Regions from separate parts of the Homo sapiens genome. Here all the other regions are reported to be linked to region 4. The links are microRNA targets in miRTarBase. Many come from high-throughput screens and were not tested one by one. Region 4 holds a microRNA gene; each other region holds the end of a gene's coding sequence.

The links. Region 4 holds the annotated microRNA hsa-miR-1286 (UGCAGGACCAAGAUGAGCCCU, at 1,054-1,074, opposite strand). A microRNA usually pairs through its seed, bases 2 to 8, with sites in the 3' UTR of a target mRNA and lowers its output. Matches are read on the target gene's strand: a 7mer-m8 pairs with bases 2 to 8, a 7mer-A1 pairs with bases 2 to 7 and ends in A, and an 8mer does both.
Region 1: miRTarBase lists BANP as a target of hsa-miR-1286. Seed matches in the 3' UTR shown: 7mer-m8 at 500-506.
Region 2: miRTarBase lists PRDX5 as a target of hsa-miR-1286. The part of its 3' UTR that is shown has no 7-base or 8-base seed match.
Region 3: the mRNA of BSN is a reported target of hsa-miR-1286. The part of its 3' UTR that is shown has no 7-base or 8-base seed match.

The regions. Positions count from the first base shown.
Region 1 is chr16:88,076,369-88,080,368 of GRCh38, forward strand. It overlaps BANP (BTG3 associated nuclear protein), which reads left to right. Exons shown (of 14, transcript NM_001386991.1): 14 at 222-948. The coding sequence ends at 293. Among named protein-coding and RNA genes, the nearest start is that of LINC02182, 120 kb to the right of the region's middle.
Region 2 is chr11:64,320,638-64,325,850 of GRCh38, forward strand. PRDX5 (peroxiredoxin 5) reads left to right here. Exons shown (of 6, transcript NM_012094.5): 3 at 24-155; 4 at 228-266; 5 at 370-431; 6 at 949-1,174. The coding sequence ends at 1,054. It overlaps LOC102723878 (a long non-coding RNA gene), which reads right to left. Exons shown (of 4, transcript NR_188518.1): 4 at 4,413-4,694. Among named protein-coding and RNA genes, the nearest start is that of PRDX5, 5.1 kb to the left of the region's middle. RefSeq lists a silencer at 4,703-4,855.
Region 3 is chr3:49,663,757-49,668,969 of GRCh38, reverse strand. It overlaps BSN (bassoon presynaptic cytomatrix protein), which reads right to left. Exons shown (of 12, transcript NM_003458.4): 8 at 5,084-5,183; 9 at 4,416-4,547; 10 at 4,117-4,171; 11 at 3,652-3,741; 12 at 1-1,380. The coding sequence ends at 4,131. Among named protein-coding and RNA genes, the nearest start is that of APEH, 8.0 kb to the left of the region's middle. RefSeq lists an enhancer at 2,080-2,374 and a silencer at 2,080-2,374.
Region 4 is chr22:20,248,092-20,252,091 of GRCh38, forward strand. It overlaps MIR1286 (microRNA 1286), which reads right to left and starts at 1,120; the gene lies at 1,043-1,120. All of the region lies in intron 1 of RTN4R (reticulon 4 receptor), which reads right to left. RefSeq lists an enhancer at 79-680.

The sequences.
Region 1 (4,000 bases), not on the chromosome of region 4:
TGCCGGAGCCTCCCTGGGCGCCAGGGTCGTGGGCGCGTCGTTCCGCTGGGAGCCAGGCGTTGTGTACCAAGTCGGGTGAGCCTTGGGGCCGTCAGGGCTCCTTCGCGCTCCTGTGTGCGTGTTTCTCATTCTGCCTTAAAGTCACTGGCTGTTCATGACACCCCCTGGCCATGCAGTGCTGGGTATTTTTCTAGAAAGTCCCTCCTTTCTCCCTTTTGCAGACGGCCGAAGCCCTGCAGCCCACGCTACAGCCGGAGATGCAGCTCGAGCACGGGGCCATCCAGATTCAGTGAGCGGTGCCCATGGCACCAGGAGCCCCTCGCCGGCTCCGCCTACGGCCCGGCCCCCACGCGCCCTGCTCTCACGGCCTCGGCACAGGCAGCGGCTGCACGTGTTCTGCTGAAGTGCGTCTGAAGGCCGCTGCCTCCGCGGGGAACAGCATCCTATCAACTGAAAGAGCAGCCGCCGCCGCCCCCAGCCGGAGACCCCTTTCGTTTGAGTCCTGCTGTTGGTGTCGGAGCACGAGGGGAGGCACGGTGCGGAGAGCGTCGCATATGCGCGGGAAATCAAGAACTATGATATTTTTCTGTTTAAACAGCTTTTTTTAATTTGCTATGGTGTTTATAACAAAAAAGAAAATTTGAAAAAAAAAATCCCAGGGGAGTAGCAGGAGCCCTTTGCTGTGTGCTCTGTCCAGTGTCATGAGACGGGAGCCCTTTGCTGTGTGCTCTGTCCAGTGTCATGAGACGGGAGCCCTTTGCTGTGTGCTCTGTCCAGTGTCATGAGACGGGAGCCCTTTGCTGTGTGCTCTGTCCAGTGTCATGAGGCAGGTGTTTGCAAAGCCAGCTCTCGGTTCCGATGGGGTATTGCTGACCTACTTTTCTAGGGGAAATGCTCTTAAACACTGTAATTATGCATTTCTAATGAAATAAAATGTATTTATGACCACAGCAGCCTTACGCTTTTCCTCCTGCGAGACGGTTCGCCAGAGAGTGCCTGTCCCTGGGGGGTTGGGCTCGCTGGCCTTCAGGCCACGCTGCTGCCCTCTCCACTGTGCAGACAGTAGGTGTGGGCACCCCGGGACAGTCAGTTCTGTTTCCGTGTTGTAGGCACTGCCGAGGGGAAACCTGGTTTAGGACACAGCTGTGGAACTTCTTGTTCTCATAAACCACAGAGTTCTGCCAGCTCCAGAAGGCACAGTCCTGGGGTCCTTAGAGAAAGTTGCAGCCACAGGGGCAGGCCCTACTATTTACAGATTTTTTTAAGGCAGAGATAATATCTGCAAATAGAAGTGCCAGAGGCAGTTGAATCCCTGGTGACCAGCCGGGCCTGGACTGCTTCACCTACACCGTTGTGGCAGTTGCGTTAGGGGCTTGGGAAGGGCCTACGTGAAGCCGTGTTCGCTGACTTAGAGCGGGGCCTCTCTGGGCTTTCTCTGGGAGGAGTTCCGCGTTGCCATCCAGACGGTCGTAGCTCCAGCCTGCTCCACCCCGTCAGGATCCTGGGCTGGGTCCCCTTGGGGGTGAGGGTCTGGGATGAGCTGCTCTCGAAAGGGGGATGGCGCTCATGGGTTCTGCGTCTCCATCGTGGTGGGGCCGCCTCTGAAGATGGCCACCACAAGGAGCCGGGCCGAGGCCTCCCAGGAGGTCACCGGAGCTTGGCCACTCTCCAGGAGACAGAAAGGACCAGCTGGGAGGCAGGGTGTAGAAAGTCAAATCCACACGTGTATGACTGGAATCCCAGGAGAGAATGGAGAGAACAGAAGGAAGATGCATTTCAAGGATTCAGGAAGTAGAATAGAACCCCAAGGAGAAACGAACATCAGTCTCTGCCTCGACACACTCAAGTATCACAGGCAGAGATAATTTTGACAGCAGCCAGAGAGAAAGGACAGATGCCTGCGATGGGATGAAAGCAAGGCAGCAGGCGTGGGCACCCACTGGCCGCTGGGTGGAGGGGGAGCCACTGGTGCAGAGGAGGGAGCTCTCGGTGTGGGGCTGGGTCTTCAGTGAACCTGTTGTTCAGGATGCTAGTGACATGCCACCAATTGACCCAGCAGTTCCACTTGTGGGGATCCACCCCGGAGCTCTGAAGACAGCTGCTCACACATGCACTTGTGCCTGGCTGTGCCCAGCAGCACGGCTCATACCAGCCACAGGGTAGACGCAACCTGGGTTTCCATCAGCAGATGAAGGGAGAAACAAAGCTGACTGTCCAAAGAATGGGACGTCATCCAGCCACGTGAAGGAACAGAACATGGATGCGTGCTGCATCCCGGCCAGCACTCAGAGGAGCTGTGCCAAGTGAAGCCACGTGCAGAGGACCACTTACTGTTTGATTCCATTGATACGAAATGTCCAGAAAAGACAACTGCAGAGAGACCGGTTCGTGGTTGCCAAGGACTGGGGTGAGGCAGGATTGGGAGTGACTGCGAATGGGCGTGGGGTTTCTTTTTGGGTGATTAGAATGCTGTGGAATTGAAAGTCGCTGAATCCTTCACTTAAAAGGGCGAATTTGTTGGCATATAAATTATCTCAAAATTACAAAAATAAAGAATTAGGTGATACTTAAAAAAATGTATAAACAAAAATTGAGGCCGGGTGCGGTGGCTCACGCCTATAATCCCAGCGCTTTGGGAGGCTGAGGTGGGAGGATTGCTCGAGCCCAGGAGTTAGAGACAAGACTGGGCAATATAGTGAGACCCCATCTCTACAAAAAAATACAAAACAATGAGCTGGGTGTGGTGGCACGCACCTGTGGTCCCAGCTACTTGAGTTCCTGAAGTGAGAGTATCACTTGAGCCCAAGAGGTTGAGCTGAAGTGAGCTATGATTATACCACCGTACTCCAGCCTGGGTGACAGGGCAAGACCCTGTCTCACAAAAGAAAAAAAAGCTGTCATTTCCGATGACACCTCCTTTACCGGGAATTGTTAGGAATTTTTCTTGAAGAGCAGGAGTATGAATCCAGGGGAGGTGCCTAGAGTAAGATGGAGCGATGGACAAAGAGAATAATAAACATACATAAATCGTTTCATTGAAACTTTAAAAACAATATACTGGAAAACATTACTGTGTAACTTCGGCCATGGATGAAGGGAGGTGAATTGTTTTAAAGCCCCTGTATTGCCCTGCAGAAAAAGGCTGGAAGGGCCGTGCAATTTTTTTTTTTTTTTTGAGACGGAGTTTCACTCTTGTCGCCCAGGCTGGAATGCAGTGGTGTGATCTTGGCTCACTGGAACCTCTGCCTCCCGGGTTCAAGTGATTCTCCTACCTCAGCCTCCCAAGTAGCTGGGATTACAGGCACACACCACCACGCCCAGCTAATTTTTGTATTTTTAGTAGAGATGGGGTTTCACCATGTTGGCCAGGATGGCCTCAATCTCTTGACCTCGTGATCCGCCTGCCTCGGCCTCCCAAAGTGCTGGGATAACAGGTGTGAGCCACCGCGTCCGGCCTTGTTTTTTTTTTTGTTTTTTTTTTTTTTTTTTGAGATAGAATTTCGCTTTTGTTACCCAGGCTGGAGTGCAGTGGCATGATCTCGGCTCACTGCAACCTCTGCCTCCTGGGTTCAAGCGATTCTCCCGCCTCAGCCTCCCGAGTAGCTGGGATTACAGGCATGTGCCACTATGCCCGGCCAAGGGGCATGACATTCCTCACACGACTTGGGTCAAGGTGCTCGTCACCTTGCTGCAGTACCTTGCATCTCTACCAACGTTTTCTATGCCTTGTTTCTGAAGTGTTTGTCATAGTGAATTCCAGGACTTAAAATTGGATTCTTTGAGAAGATTAGTACACTTGAGAAAGCCCTGGTACACTAGTCAGAGAAAAGAGAGCAGGGACAAATTACAATGTCAGAATCTACGAACCCTTCAGACATGAAAACTTGAGGCTGTCTCAGAAGTCAGTGGGAAACGTTAAATGCAATTGACAAATTACTAGGAAAAAACTGCTATCAGAAGAAATAGAACATCTTACTAGCTCCTGTCTTTCAGAAATCTT
Region 2 (5,213 bases), not on the chromosome of region 4:
GACCCTTTGTTCCCCTTCCTCAGACACACCTGCCAGGGTTTGTGGAGCAGGCTGAGGCTCTGAAGGCCAAGGGAGTCCAGGTGGTGGCCTGTCTGAGTGTTAATGATGCCTTTGTGACTGGCGAGTGGGGCCGAGCCCACAAGGCGGAAGGCAAGGTGAGGTGAGGGGCCTGCAGGGAGTCAGGACCAGGTAGGATATTCTTCTTGTGACCTTTACTTTCTCTGCAGGTTCGGCTCCTGGCTGATCCCACTGGGGCCTTTGGGAAGGTGAGTGTTCCCCTGACCGCCACAGGGACATGGCAGTGCGGGGAGCAGTGGGGGCCCTTAGCCTCTTCAAGGATTTCTGACACTTTTCTCTGTCTCTTCTTAGGAGACAGACTTATTACTAGATGATTCGCTGGTGTCCATCTTTGGGAATCGACGTCTCAAGAGGTAAAAGTGGAGAGTCCTCTGTGGAGAGAGTCCTCTGTGGGAGAGAGTCCTCTGTGGGAGAGAGTCCTCTGTGGAGAGGGTCCTCTGTGGGAAGAGTCGTCTGTGGGGGAGAGTCCTCTGTGTGGGAGAGTCGTCTGTGGGGAGAGTCCTGTGTGGGGAGAGTCCTCTGTGGAGAGAGTCCTCTGTGGGGGAGAGTCCTGTGTGGGGGAGAGTCCTCTGTGGGGAGAGTCCTCTGTGTGGAGAGAGTCCTGTGTGGGAGAGAGTCCTGTGTGGGGAGAGTCTTCTGTAGGGGAGAGTCCTCTGGGGAGAGAGTCCTGTGTGGGGGAGAGTTCTCTGTGGGGAGAGTCCTCTGTGTGGAGAGAGTCCTGTGTGGTGGTGAGTCCTCTGTGGGGGAGAGTCCTCTGTGGGGGGAGTCCTCTCTGGAGTTCTCTTGGGCCCCTGGCTGTTCACTGCCTGTCTCCATGCCCAGCCTCCAAGCCCAGGCTGATGCAGCTGGCTGGGCCCCTCTTTCCGGCAGGTTCTCCATGGTGGTACAGGATGGCATAGTGAAGGCCCTGAATGTGGAACCAGATGGCACAGGCCTCACCTGCAGCCTGGCACCCAATATCATCTCACAGCTCTGAGGCCCTGGGCCAGATTACTTCCTCCACCCCTCCCTATCTCACCTGCCCAGCCCTGTGCTGGGGCCCTGCAATTGGAATGTTGGCCAGATTTCTGCAATAAACACTTGTGGTTTGCGGCCATCTCCTTGGTTATGAATGGCTGTTTCGCTGAGCGCCAGGCATTCTGGCATCATCACAGACTGGGTGAGAATGGTGAGGGCGCAGATGGGCTGAAAGGGAGAATGTAGGGGGTCCTGCTTAATTAAGGGGGAGCTAGGGAGGGCCTTTCAAGGGAAGTTTTTTTTTTTTTTTTTTTTTGAGACAGTTTCACTCTGTCCCCTAGGCTGGAGTGCAGTGGCATGATCTCGGCTCACCACAACCTCTGCCTCCCAGGTTCAAGCGATTTTCCTGCCTCAGACTCCCCAGTAGATGGGATTACAGGTGTCTGCCACCACGCCCGACTAAGTTTTTGTATTTTTGGTAGAGACGGGGTTTCACCATGTTGGCCAGGCTGGTCTCGAACTCCTGACCTCAGGTGATCACCCGCCTCCACCCCCCAAAGTGCTGGGATTACAGGTGTGAGCCACTGTGCCCAGCCTTGAGGCAGGTGTTACTGAGCACTGAGAAGGAGCCAGCAATCTGAAGAGGAAGGGAAGAAGCGCTCCCCACAGAGGCAGCACAGAGGGCGAGGCCTGGCCGATGGCATGTGGCGCACAGTGTGGCCTTTGTACCTGCTCTCTGGGTGCTGCCTGATGCCATTTAGTCTGGAAACCCCATGGCGGGAAGCTTGGCTCCCAGCATTCCTGCCGGGGCCCAGCCCCACCATCCTTTCAGACTTGACCCCCTCCTGGGCACACCCTCATCCCAGGAAGAGCTCAGGTCACTTTAGGACCATCTGATGGACAGGGAGAGGGGCTCTGGCACAGCACTTGCTCATTCCAGGAGGGCTCCCTGGGGGAAGAGTCTAGGTGAGCTGTGGAGGGGAGAAGATGCTGGTGAGGCCTGACCAGTGGTGGCTGGGTGTGAGGGGCCTCAAGTGGGGACACCAGCAGGGTGTGGGGATGGGGGCCATTGCCACGGCAGGCCCTGCTCCTGGGCCTCTGCCCCTTGGTGCAGGGAAGCCACGCCTGTGATGGTGAGGCCCCACTGCGTGGAGTCTAGGGGGCCTCTGTGCCCTGCGCGATGCTGCCTGCCTGCCCACCCCAGGTGTGGTAACAGCCCTCACAAGAATTGGTGAGGTGTGGACTGCTGCTGCCTCTCAGCCACCTACAGGGAGTCCGCATTCCATCACCGCGTGGAGCTGCCCTGCCATGAACCACATCAATACCTGGCTCCCAGGCACTTCCTGCGTAGTGGTCCCCAGGGGTCAGCCCCCACTGCTGACTCAGGCAGGCCACACTCTTGAGAGGTCAGGGAGAAGGTCAAAGCAGGGCCTCATAGAGCAAATGACCCTTGAGGCAGTGGGAGTGGCGCCTCAAGTGGGAGGCGGAGGGAGGCCCATAGCCCTAGGGGTGAGCCCCATAGCCCTAGGGGTGGAGGGTGGGACAATCCCATGCTGCCGCAGCAAGGTGGGTAGCAGGAGTAGGGGGGGAATGTTGGGGACAAGAGAGGATGCCTGGAGGTCAGTGGGCTCTCTGAAGCTGATGAGCAGCTTGCCTTCCACCCTACAGGCACCTTGGCCATGGGCTACCGTGTGCAGCCCCCAAGCTGGGAGGCTGGGAGAGGCACCAGATGGGCAGCAGGGAGCAGGACCCATGATGACAGCAATGCCCAGGAGGTGGAGGTGGAGATGTGTTGGGAGGGAGGGTGCATCCAGGGAGCTGCTTGCTGAAGGTGGAGGGGCTGGGTGCTTGTGGTCACGTCTGTGAGAACAGACACTCAGTAGGAGGGGAGCCAGCCTCCCTGCCCAGGGTTGCAGGTGCTCAGCCTACCCGAGTCGTGCTGCCCACCAACCTCTGTCACTGTGGTTCTCTCCCACAACCTGCCACCCCTTCAGGGGTCCCAGGTGGGGGCAGGGAAGGAGGCTGACTGCACCTCGAGCTGCCCTGGTAAACTGCCTGCCTCTCCTCTCCTGCCAAACTCGGGGGTACAGTGTTGTCCTCATGGACACGCATAACACAAAGCCCCTTTCTTTCCCGGATACCACCTCTTTATCCTCTCATCATACAAATGAGAAAACAGACGTGGAGCTTCCTACAGGGCACCTGTGAGCTAATGAGTGTCTCCATTAGTAAATAGGGGGTGGTGGTAGCAAATAGCCCACCCCACTGGCTGTGCACCCCACGCTACCCAGGCAGCTCCCTGCTATCGGGGAAGCCCAGCTCCGTCTCTGTCACTCTGCTGCCTGTTTCCTCTGCTCCTGGGCTATTATCTGGGCTGGCTGAGGCCAAGCAAGGCCTCTAGAGGAAGTGTCCCCTCCAAGGTCTGTTGCCACTGGCTGGGCCTCTAGGAAGGGTTGAGAGGGCTTCCAGGGCTGGGGTGGCCCTCTAGGACAGCCTGGTGTGGGTGGCGGTGGGGCTGTGGCCTCAGTGGCCCTGACTGCTGAGCATGTGGCTGAGCTTGCTGGAGTGAGGACGTCCTTGGGTGGGGGCACGGAGGACTGGCCCTGGAAGCTGCTCCAGGCCCTGGAGGGCCCAAGATTAAACAGCACCTGGCAAGAGAACCTTGCATAGCTGTCTCCAGGTTGGACAGGTGGGGCTTCAGGCCTGGAGATAAGGGCAGACCAGGCCACGGTGTCCTGGACCAGAGAGCCCTGGACATCTGGGCTGCACCTGGCAGAGCTGTGCGTGTGGCCTTCCTGGGCTCTTGGTGGCCGAAAGACCAATGTTAAAAAACATAACAGGCCAGGCGGGGTGGCTTACACCTGTAATCCCAGCACCGTGGGAGGCCAAGGCGGGTGGATCATTTTAGGTCAGGAGTTTGAGACTAGCCTGGCCAACATGGAGAAATCCCATATCTACTAAAAATACAAAAATTACTTGGGCATGGTGGCGCATGTCTGTAATCCCGGCTACTGGGGAGGGAGGCTGAGGCAGGAGAATTGCTTGAACCTGGGAGGTGGAGGTTGCAGTGAGCCGAGATCGTGCCACTGCATGCCAGCCTGGGAGACAGAGCAGGAGTCTGTCTCAAAAAAAAAAAAAAAAAAAAAAAAAAGAAAAGAAGCTGAAACATCCACCCAACAACACATGCCCCAGTGAAACTCACTTGCCTGTCCTAGCATGCCCAAGGCCATAGCAACTGAGACCAGAAGGCCAAGGGTGTTACTCAGCATCAGTGGTTCTGGGCCTTCCTGGGTCTAGAGTCCCTTTGAAACGCAGCTGAACAGACCCCAACATGAGCCTGAAGAGTGTTGACCTAAAAGGAAGAAGCCTAGGCAAAATTAATATCAGCGGAGACTTTATTTGGGCCAAGCTTGAGGATTGCATCCCAGGAGCACAGATTCAAGTTGCCCTGAATATACACTCCGATTAGCAGAAGTTGAAATGGATTTTAAAAGGACAAGAGAGCTCCTGAGTTGTTTACTAAGAATTTACATTAAAATAACAAACTGGCTGGCTGCAGTGGCTCAGGCCTGTAATCCCGGTTCCTCTGGCAGCTGAGGTGGAAGCATTGATTCAGGCCAGTTTGAGACCAGCTTGGACAACATAGCAAGACACCGTCCCTACAAAATAAATAAATAAATAAATAAGTAAATATATAAATAAGTTGTCGTAGTGCATGCCTGTGGTCGTAGCTACTCAGGAGGCTGAGGCGGGAGGATCGCTTGACACCAGGAGTTGGTGACTAACTACAGTTAGTGAGCTATAATCGTGCCACTACCCTCCAGCCTGGGTGACAGAGCGAGACCTTGTCTCTAAAAAAATAAAAATAGGCCGGGTGTGGTGGCTCACACCTATAATCCCAGCACTTTGGGAGGCTGAGGTGGGCGGATCACCTGAGGTCGGGAGTTCGAGACCAGCCTAACCAACATGGAGAAACCCCGTCTCTACTAAAAATACAAAATTAGCCAGGTGTGGTGGCTCATGCCTGTAATCCCAGCTACTCGGGCGGCTGAGGCAGAAGAATCACTTGAACCTGGGAGGCGGAGGTTTTGGTGAGCCAAGATCTCACCACTGCACTCCAGCCTGGGCAACAAGAGCCAAACTCTGTCTCAAAAAAAAAAAAACCCAAAACAAAAACA
Region 3 (5,213 bases), not on the chromosome of region 4:
GGGGTGGGGGTTTTATGAGTGTATCTATCCAGTTTCTCAATTGCATGTTTGCAATTAACTCCTTATACATAACATGGAATTTATTAAATATTAACAGTTGTCATTGAGGGTTTATATTTCATTGCATAGAACGTTAGAGATGAGACTTGTGGCTGTGCCCCAGATGAAAGGAGGCCCCCAAGGGAAGAGCCCTGGGGAGGAATGCTGCCCAGTCCACCGGATGGATAGACAGTGCCACATTCCCCCGCACAGGGCTCTGGGCCTTTCCCTTGGCTGGCAGAAGTCCTGGCCCCTCTGCTCTGAGTACACCCACTGGTGATGGCTTAAGAACGACTGGAATTGCACAGTAAACAGAGGCGGGCTGGGAGGCCTCCCCAGACCTCGCCCTGGGGTTGTGCTCTTGGTGGCCTGCTGCCCCCTATTGCTTCTAAGTCAACATTCTCCCTGTGCTGAGCAGGGGCAGAGCAGAGAGGAAACCAAACCATCAGTCACAAGGTGGTGGTGGAGGGGGAGAGGCAAGGGAGTGAGCCAAGAGAAGAGAGAAAGGGGGAGAGAGAAACAAAAGAAAAATGTTTATGAGGTATACACGTAAATCAAACTGGAATGATTAAGGCTGTTCTTGAAATCAAAAGAAATCCCCAGGTGTACAGACGAGGAGCCGGCTGGTTGAGACAATGGCGGTGCCGCTGGGATGCTCACGATGGCTAGGGGGATGGCTTTGAGATGGTGGCAGTGTGCTAGCACGCTGCCACCCACGGGCTGGGAGAAGCCTCAGCCGGCGCCCACGCTGCTTTTCGGTGCTATGGCCTCTTATTTCAGCGATGAGACAGTGTTAGGTCCTAATGTTTGTAAAGTTCTCCCAACCCCTGGCCACATGGAGGTCTGCTCCGATGTCACCCAGAGGGCATGTGACGGGCAGGGCCCTGTGCCACAGAGGGATCCGGGCCAGCTGGAATGTGAAGGAAACGGAGCCCAGGGCCCCCAGCCCTCAGTCAAAGCCCCTCTCCAAGGCTGTGGAAAAACTTCTGGCATCTCGGAGGGAGGGCAGTGTGTGCCCAAACTCTGTGTATAACGCACGGGAAGCCTGGCCGGCCAGGCCGCAAAAAGGCGGCTGTGGGAAGTACGGCAAGACACCATGGTGGCAGGGTTTCTGGAGAGGGTTCTCCCTCCCAACAAGGGCTGTGCCTTGAAGGTGGTGCCCTGCAGAGAGCAGCATCTCTGGAAAGACAATCAAAGGTCCCCTGGCCAGTGGTCCGACTTGTCCAGCAGATGCTTCACCCAGGCAGCTGCTGTGAGAAAACATCACGTCCTCAACTGAGGCCTGCCTGCCACGTCCCACCTGGTGAGTCTTTGGGCCAAGGGTTTGCCAGATTGTAGATGCTTGAAAGAGAAAAGGAGGGAGGGAGGAAGGAAAGAAGAAAAGAAAGGATTCTGTCAAGAATTGTAGATAGCTGCTTCTCACCCTCACATTCCTCTCAGCCATCTGCCTGTGCTAGCGGCCACCTCCTCACCCACGGGGTGCCATGCCACTCAGGCTTGGGGAGATGGGTGCTTGGGCAGGTTGGAGGTCACAGAGAGGACAGCAAGAAAGAAGAATCAGGTCAGCCAGGAAGGGACACTTCTTTTAATGTAACAAAAGTTCCTTTTTTTTTTTTTTTTTTGGCTTAAGAGTGATGGAGAAGGGATTTGGTTTGAAATGGCAAACCTCTCCAAGCCCATCTCTGAAATTGCCGTAAAGAATTTCAGGAGAGGGATACTCACGGCAGCACTGTCCACTTGACCCAATCATTAGCCGAATGCTAGAACTCAAGGGAGATTTCTTTAACTATAAAGTCAGTGGTCTCAGTGGCCCAACCACACCATGTGGCAGGACGCAGAACAAAGCTGTGTCTGTGCTTCCTTTCCCTGCTCAGGAGCCATACCCTGGCCCCAAACCCAAGGTAGGTACTGTCATGAATCCAGGCCATGGGCTGTCCCTCCTTCCCCCACTTTCAGCACCACTTGTGATTTCACATCTGTTCCAGGGCAACTCCAAGGAAACATCAGCTGAGCGGGAAGCCGCAGGAAGCCCGCTGTGGGAGGGTGAAGGCAGGAAGAACGCTAAGGGCTGCACTATGGCTACTGTAATTAGAATAAATTCCAGGCTCCTTACTTGGCCTGCACAACCCACCCCAGCTGGCTCCCACCCCCTTGGACTTTACCCCTGACCACCTCTCCCCTCCACTGTGGCCCTGGCTATACTGGCCTTTGCCCTGTCCCTGGTCCCATCCCAGCATCCGATCATCCGTCAGTGCTGTTCCCTCCCCTTTTTTCATCCCACCGCAGTCGTCCTCCTCCCTCAAGCTTCCCTCACATATCTTCTGCTCTGAGCACTTTGTCTAGAGCAGACCCCACTGCTTCCATAGCTCTGCTTCTCTGGCTTTATAACACTCATCACTTTCAGAAAGTACCTTTTTAATTGAATTTTATTTTTAAACTTATTTATTCTCTATCTCCTTTAATGGATTGTCAGCTTCAGAGGGCAGGGACTTGGTTTTGTTCTCTGCCATATCCCCAGATCCTGGAAGAGTGCCTGGCACATACCTGGGGCTTGACAAACATTTGTTGAATAAATGGACGGAAGCCTGGGCCTTTCCAGGGCCCCACTGCTTTTCCAGAGAAAGGTAGCCTGTGAGGTATCACACCTAGCTCCTTCCCTCCCACAACCAGTGCTGGCCCGGGCCCAGCATCTGCCAGCCCCAGGGCTCCCTTGAAGTGACCTGCTCACTGACCGCCAGGCCCCGCCATGGATAACACATACATGCTTGTGCACCGTGAGAAGCACCCTGAAGGGGCAAGGAGGGAGAAGAGGAGGGTCCGAGGGCTATGGGATGATGGTCAGTGGTCCTGGCTGTGCACAGAGCTGTACCAACAGCCAGGTGATTCTCCTCCCACCCAGGATGATGCACTTCCTCCTCCTCCCACAGAGGCAGGGCCAAGGCCAGGGCCAGGGCCAGGGCCAGGACAGGCTCCAGGAAGTGGTGTCCCAACCTGCCTTGGCCACTGCAGCCCAGACAGGGTGAGGGCTCCCATCCTGAGGCCCTTCTGCCCTCTCCCTGAGCTGACTTAGTCTGGGGCTGAGACTCCCTTTCCTCTATGTCCCTTCCTGTCTGCCTCTCTACTCCTTCCACTCTTCTATCCTGTGGGCCACAAGCTCAGCCTGTGAAGCCAGGAGTGTTTTGACTTCATTCCCAGAGCTGCAGATGTGACTCTGTGGGGTTTGGGGACTCTAATCTCTTCCAAGTGGCTGGAGCAAAGGCACCAGCAGCAGACATCAGGGAAGAAGCATGTTCCCCTACAGGTGCCACAGACTACCAGGTCCTTCAGGATGACTTTGAACTCAGTGCCCAGCACATAGACTTCAAGTTGTGAGGTGCAGTTAGCCGTGCTGGGCTCTTCTCCAAGGGTGCCACCTGACTTGTCTGGCACCATCTCAGGCAGCTCTGTGGCCCCTGCCTCTGCGGGGTAGAGGGCTGCTGGGCCCATCGCAGCTGAAGGAAACCCAACAGGCCCTTCCCAGTTCACACTTGTCAGAACTGGCTAGCTGTCATCAGCCAGGCCTTGGCCCTTCACCCCTCCTCCGGCCCATCTCACCCTGATCCTGACACTCACTGTTATACGCAGAGTCCAGAGCTGCGCCCAGGCCTCTGACTCCAGAGATTTTTCCACAGCAATGATACCTCTCTTCATTTCTTCAAGAGCCTGTGGAGCATTTAGAGGAGGGCTGGAGAGGAGTTGCATCCCTGGAGGCCTACCTACAACCCAGTGCCAGCCCAGTGCTGTGAGAGCCCTGCAGGGGATGGCAGATGGTTTGAAAGCCAGGGCACTGGCCCTGGCTTTGGCCCCTCCTTTGCTGGGGACCCCTACTGTGTTGGCCCCATGGTAGGGGCTCTGTGCACAGTGTCCCTCCTTTTTCTCCTCCCACATTCAGAGAAGGGAACATTGCAGCTCTGGGTACTGAACCAGCCGAAGACTGGACTCCTCCCAGAGGACCCCTTCGGACTTAGAGCCCCACCCCCACCCCCAGTGCCTCGGGCCTTTCCCAGAAGAGGCAAGGTACAGGCTGCTTGTACTCACCATGCTGGGCATGGTCACCAGAATGAGGAAAATTTTTTGCCAAAAGCAGAGACAGCTGTGACAAAGAAAGAGGAGAGAGCCATCAGGAAATTGGGCCAGACCCCTCCCAGTCAGGGCCACTTGGCATAGTGAAGGCAAGCTCAGCCCAAGGGGCAGAGATTGCCCGGAGAACAACTGGGCATCAGCAGGTGGGCTCTCTGGCTGGCCTCTGCCTGGGTGACTGAGTCTGGAATCATCTCACAGACCCAGCCTGTACCAGAGTAGCCACCCACCACAGACCAGTTGCAGGCAGTGCATACCTTCCGTCAGTTTGCCAGCTTGCTCGGCTGCCCCGCCAGGGAGGATCTTGGAGAACACGCTCTCCCCATCGGCACCTGGCTGGCCGGCGGGAGCCCCTGGGGTTCCTCCAGGCCTGGCTCCAGCCTTCACACCTAGGAGGAAAGAAATCGCCATAATGAGCTATGCACGGCCTGGCTCTTTAGGGTCTAAGAGGGCAAGTACCCACGAGAGAATCTGAACACAGGTACCCTATAAGGTGGGAAGGTGAGAAGGAGGCTAGGGAAATAAAGAGAAGAAGGTAAGAACAGGAAGACAAGGGGTGGGAGAAGGCAGAAAAAAGGAGGTTGAGGAAGGGAAAGAAGAAGAAAGGGAAAAAAAGGCAGAGAAGAGCAGGAAAGGGGAAGGAAGGAGGGAGCAAGAAGCCATGGTCCCCACCCTGTGCTCACCAGTGCCTTCCTGCTTCTCTGCCCAAAGCTGCTTGGGCCCTAAAGCCCCTGTGCTGGTGACCTCATTGGCTTATTCTAACCCCAGGCTTGTTTTCTGCTGGGGAGGTCTACAGCCCCTGGGGCACCTTCTCAGGGATTAGTGAGGGCATGCAGTGTGGGGGAGCTCAGGGCACAGGTGGTATAGAGAGAGAACAGCCTGGGTGCTCTGGGCCACAGCCAAGGGTGTCAAAGGATAGGCTCACCTGCAGGTCCAGGTCCTGGTGCTGGCTGGGCCTGAGGAGCCCTCCCCTGTTGCGGTGCTTTGGCTGTCCCTTTAGAGCCATTTGTCTGTTCTGCCCGTGGCTGCAACACAGAACCTATAGCTAAGATTCT
Region 4 (4,000 bases):
TTATTGACCCATTTTACAAATGAGGAACATAAGAACTGGTGTGGGTATAATCAATAGCAAACACAATCCAAGGTCAAATCCAACCATATGCTACTTACAAGAAACATGCCTAAAAGTACACAAAATCTTGCAATTAAAGATATTATCAGAAAAATAATAACAAGTAAAGCAGGAGAAGCCACAGCCCCAGGGCTAGCGGGCTTCCCAGTCTCATGGCCCCAGGGGTGCGAAAAGGTCTTGCTGGGCAGTAAAGGCTCAGCCACCCCCGCTCCTAACCTGAGCTCCACAGTCCTGTTTCCAGCCAGCAGGGCACCTGAGAGGGTACACCTTTCAAGTCACAGACACTGAAGCTAGCAGAGGATGGCCTGGCCCAGGTGAGAGCTGGCAGCCCTGGATGGCACCCTCACCCCAAGGACACATCAACGTGGGCCACACCGTGCAGGATCATCCACTCGCTTGGCCCTCCCTCCGTACCTTGGCAAGGTGTGAAGTGGCCCCTGTCCCAGGTGCTGTGCTGAGTGCCGCCCATACAAGACCAGGCCGAGGAGCCGGGTCCCAGGCACTCACGGTCCAGGGCCAGCTGACCACGGGCAGCCACCCTGCTGCATGGCAGGTGCCCTATGGGAGAGTTAGGAGCCACAGAGGCCTGAGCCAGCCCCAGGCAGCATGAGGATGTTGGCAGGAGCCCAGGAGCCCACTACCAGCCAAAGGGTCTTGGCAGAGCCCCAAGTGGGCAGGATCCTTGGCCTAGCACCTAGGCCTCGAGGATTCATCTTTGGTCAATGCTGGGCTGCCTGCGTGGAGGGCTCCAGAACCTTGCCCCATCCAGCCCATACACCCCTCACTGGAGGTGCACCCTCCTCGGCTCCCACCCCAGTGAGCCCCACACTGGGGGCCCCTGGAGGCTCTGCCCAGTGGAGGCCTCGCCCAGCCCAGGGCACAGCCAGTGCCCCCTTGCCCCACAGGAGGCTTGAGCCCACCTGCTCCTCCATGCTCCACCAGGAGCCAACAAACACCTGCTGCCTAATTATCTGGAGAATCCTGTCTCCACCAAGGGCTCATCTTGGTCCTGCAGCTAATTCAATCCAGCAGCCAGAGCAAGCTGAGTCCCCAGAGGACACTAATGAGCAAGTGACCGGTGGCCGGCCTGCTCCCACCCTGGGGACGCACTCTGAGCCAGGTCTGGGCCCAGCACTGCCATACACCTGCCTCCCATGCCCATCTGCCTGCCTGACCCTGCCCGCTACCTGGTGCCTAGCCCTGCAGGGCCCACATCCACTCCCATGGGCTAGCATCCAGACCTAAGCCCCAGCCCTCCCACACTCCCCCAGGACCCTGGATCTGCTGCATGCACAAGGCTGACCACTGCCTGTGAGCCCAGAGTGTCGGCCTTGACAGGGCAGGAGGAAGTACAAGAGCACATGCTCAGGGTGCACGAGCCAGGAGCACAGACTCAGTGCATGCAATGGGACCCCTGGGGGTGCACACGATAGGCGTGCATACCGGAAACACACAATAAGAGCCCCCAGGGCTGGTCAGGGCTCAGGCAGAGTCCACTGAGCAGTAGAGGGTTGCTGGGATGCGAGCCCCTCCCAGGAGCCAGGGCCCGGCTGGAGGGTCTGCATGCCGCTGCGGCAGAGGAAGATGTGTAGGCACATCCCCATGTGTTCTCTTGCCCTCAGCATTTGTAAAACATGATCAACCAGGCAGGCGAGCGGCCTCTGTCCGAGCAGAATTTATTCTGCTGTGAAAAGACACGTGTGGGTCCTGAGGCTCTTGCCGGCTTGTTCTCAGCAGCCTTGGATCAGCCTCAGTCAGCAGAACAGCAGCTGGACAGGCTCCCATTGGAGCCATCCCAGGGACTGCCCAGCCCTTCACATTAGAAACTGAGCTGGGGGCAGCAGCTGGCCCACGGCACATAAGCAGTGCCTGCTAAGACCACAGAGAAGCTCAGCCAGGCAGGGCCAGTGGGATCCAGCACTCCCCAGGGGATGAGGAATCTAAGAGGCAGGAGAGGATCCTCCTCAGCCTGGGATGTTCCCATTGGAATTCCCCCAGCCAAGGCCAGAGCTCCGTGTCCGGGGGCCAGAGTGGAACCCTTGTCAGAGCCGACAGGCCTTGGCCTCCTATTCTACTGGCACCTGGCAAACTGGCCCAAGGGCTGGCTGCTGCTTCTGTAAAGGATGTGCTATTGGCAGCCAGCCACACCTATGTGTTCACGCATTGTCCATGGCTGCTTTCCCGCAACAACAGCAGAGCTGAGTTGTTATGACACACTGTGTGGCCCACAAAGCTGGAATTATTTAGTATCACACCATTCACACAAACAGTTTGCCGACCTGGTTTGTGAGCAAGCCGAGTGTGGGTGCTGCCACCTTCACCCTCACAATGGCCCCAGCAGTTCACTCAGACCCCCACTAATGAAAAGGAAACCAAGGGTCAGAGAAGACCACGGTCCTGCTGAAGTCACATAGCCAGGTGAACAGAGCCCAGCAACCTCAGTGCAGGCTCAGCTCTGTGGAGACCTGGGCAAGGTCAGCATCTCACGGAGGCCTAGGGTGAGGGGTTCTAGGCAAGAAAGAGACTCAGAAATACTGAAATACTCTGCAGGTCAAAACAGAAATGATCATTTTTCTAAAGAGGCTGTCAGGAGTCTCACAGTCAAATATGCATAAAATAGGACAACCTAACACAAATAAGTTGGGAGGGGTGGCTCACACCTCAGCCTCCTGAGTAGCTGGGATTACACACACACACATGCATGCACACACACACACACACATACACACAAAGAGAACAAAATGGTTGTAAGGAGAGGGGGACAGCAGAGGAAGTGCTGAATGACACAGTCCGGCTTCGGAGGAAAGGACTTGGGTGGCACTTCAGAGGAGACAAATCCAGTGCAGGTAGTTTTGAAGAGGGCAGCCGTTTAACTGAGGTAGGGGGTCTCTGGGGACAGGGCCCCTCCATGCCAGTCCACCCACCTTGGAACCCTGCAGAGGCTGGGCCGAGGCCTCTCCCTGCACCTTGTATCAGGGACTCTGGCCAGGTCACACCAAGGTGGCTTATGACCCATTAACATCAAGCTGCCTCCCTGGGCTGGACAGGGCCTGGAAAGAGGTGACCTGGGCAGATCCGTGTCGATGTACTTCCCAGGACATCAGGATTCCAGCCTCTGCTAAAGGGATCTTCACAGTTAATAACAAAGAAATATTAAAGATGAGAACACTTGGTGCAGGAAACAAGAGAGGAAAGGGAGTGCGGTCCCTCCTTGCAAACAGGATGCCCTGGACCACCCTCCACGGCCTCAGGCCTGGATGCTCCTGCAGACCCATAGCCAAGATTGTGAAGGAAAAGTAGGCTGTGGAGGCATTTTCTGTCCTTGTTATCATCATTGTAAACATACTCATCATCACCATCACCATCCTCATCACCATCACCACCACTATCACCACCATAATCATCAGCAGCAGCATCATCACCATCATCACCACCACTATCATCATTACCATCCTCATTACCATCACTATCACCACCATCATCTTCATCACCATCCTCATCACCATCACCATCCTCAACACCATCCTCAACACCATCATCACCATCACTATCATCATCACCATCACCATCCTCAACACCATCATCACCATCACTATCACCACCACTATCATCCTCATCACCATCCTCATCACCATCACCAGCCTCAACACCATCATCACCAACACTATCACCATCATTATCATCATCACCATCCTCATCACCCTCACCATCCTCATCACCATCATCACTATCACTATCACCACCATCATCATCACCACTATCCTTATCACCATCATCATCCCCAGGCGACCAGAGCAGCACCATCCTTATCCTCATCACTATCACCATCACCATCACCATCATCACCATCCTCATCCTCATCACCATCATCCCATCACTATCATCACCATCCTCATCACAATCACTATCATCACCATCACCATCCTCATCATCACCATCG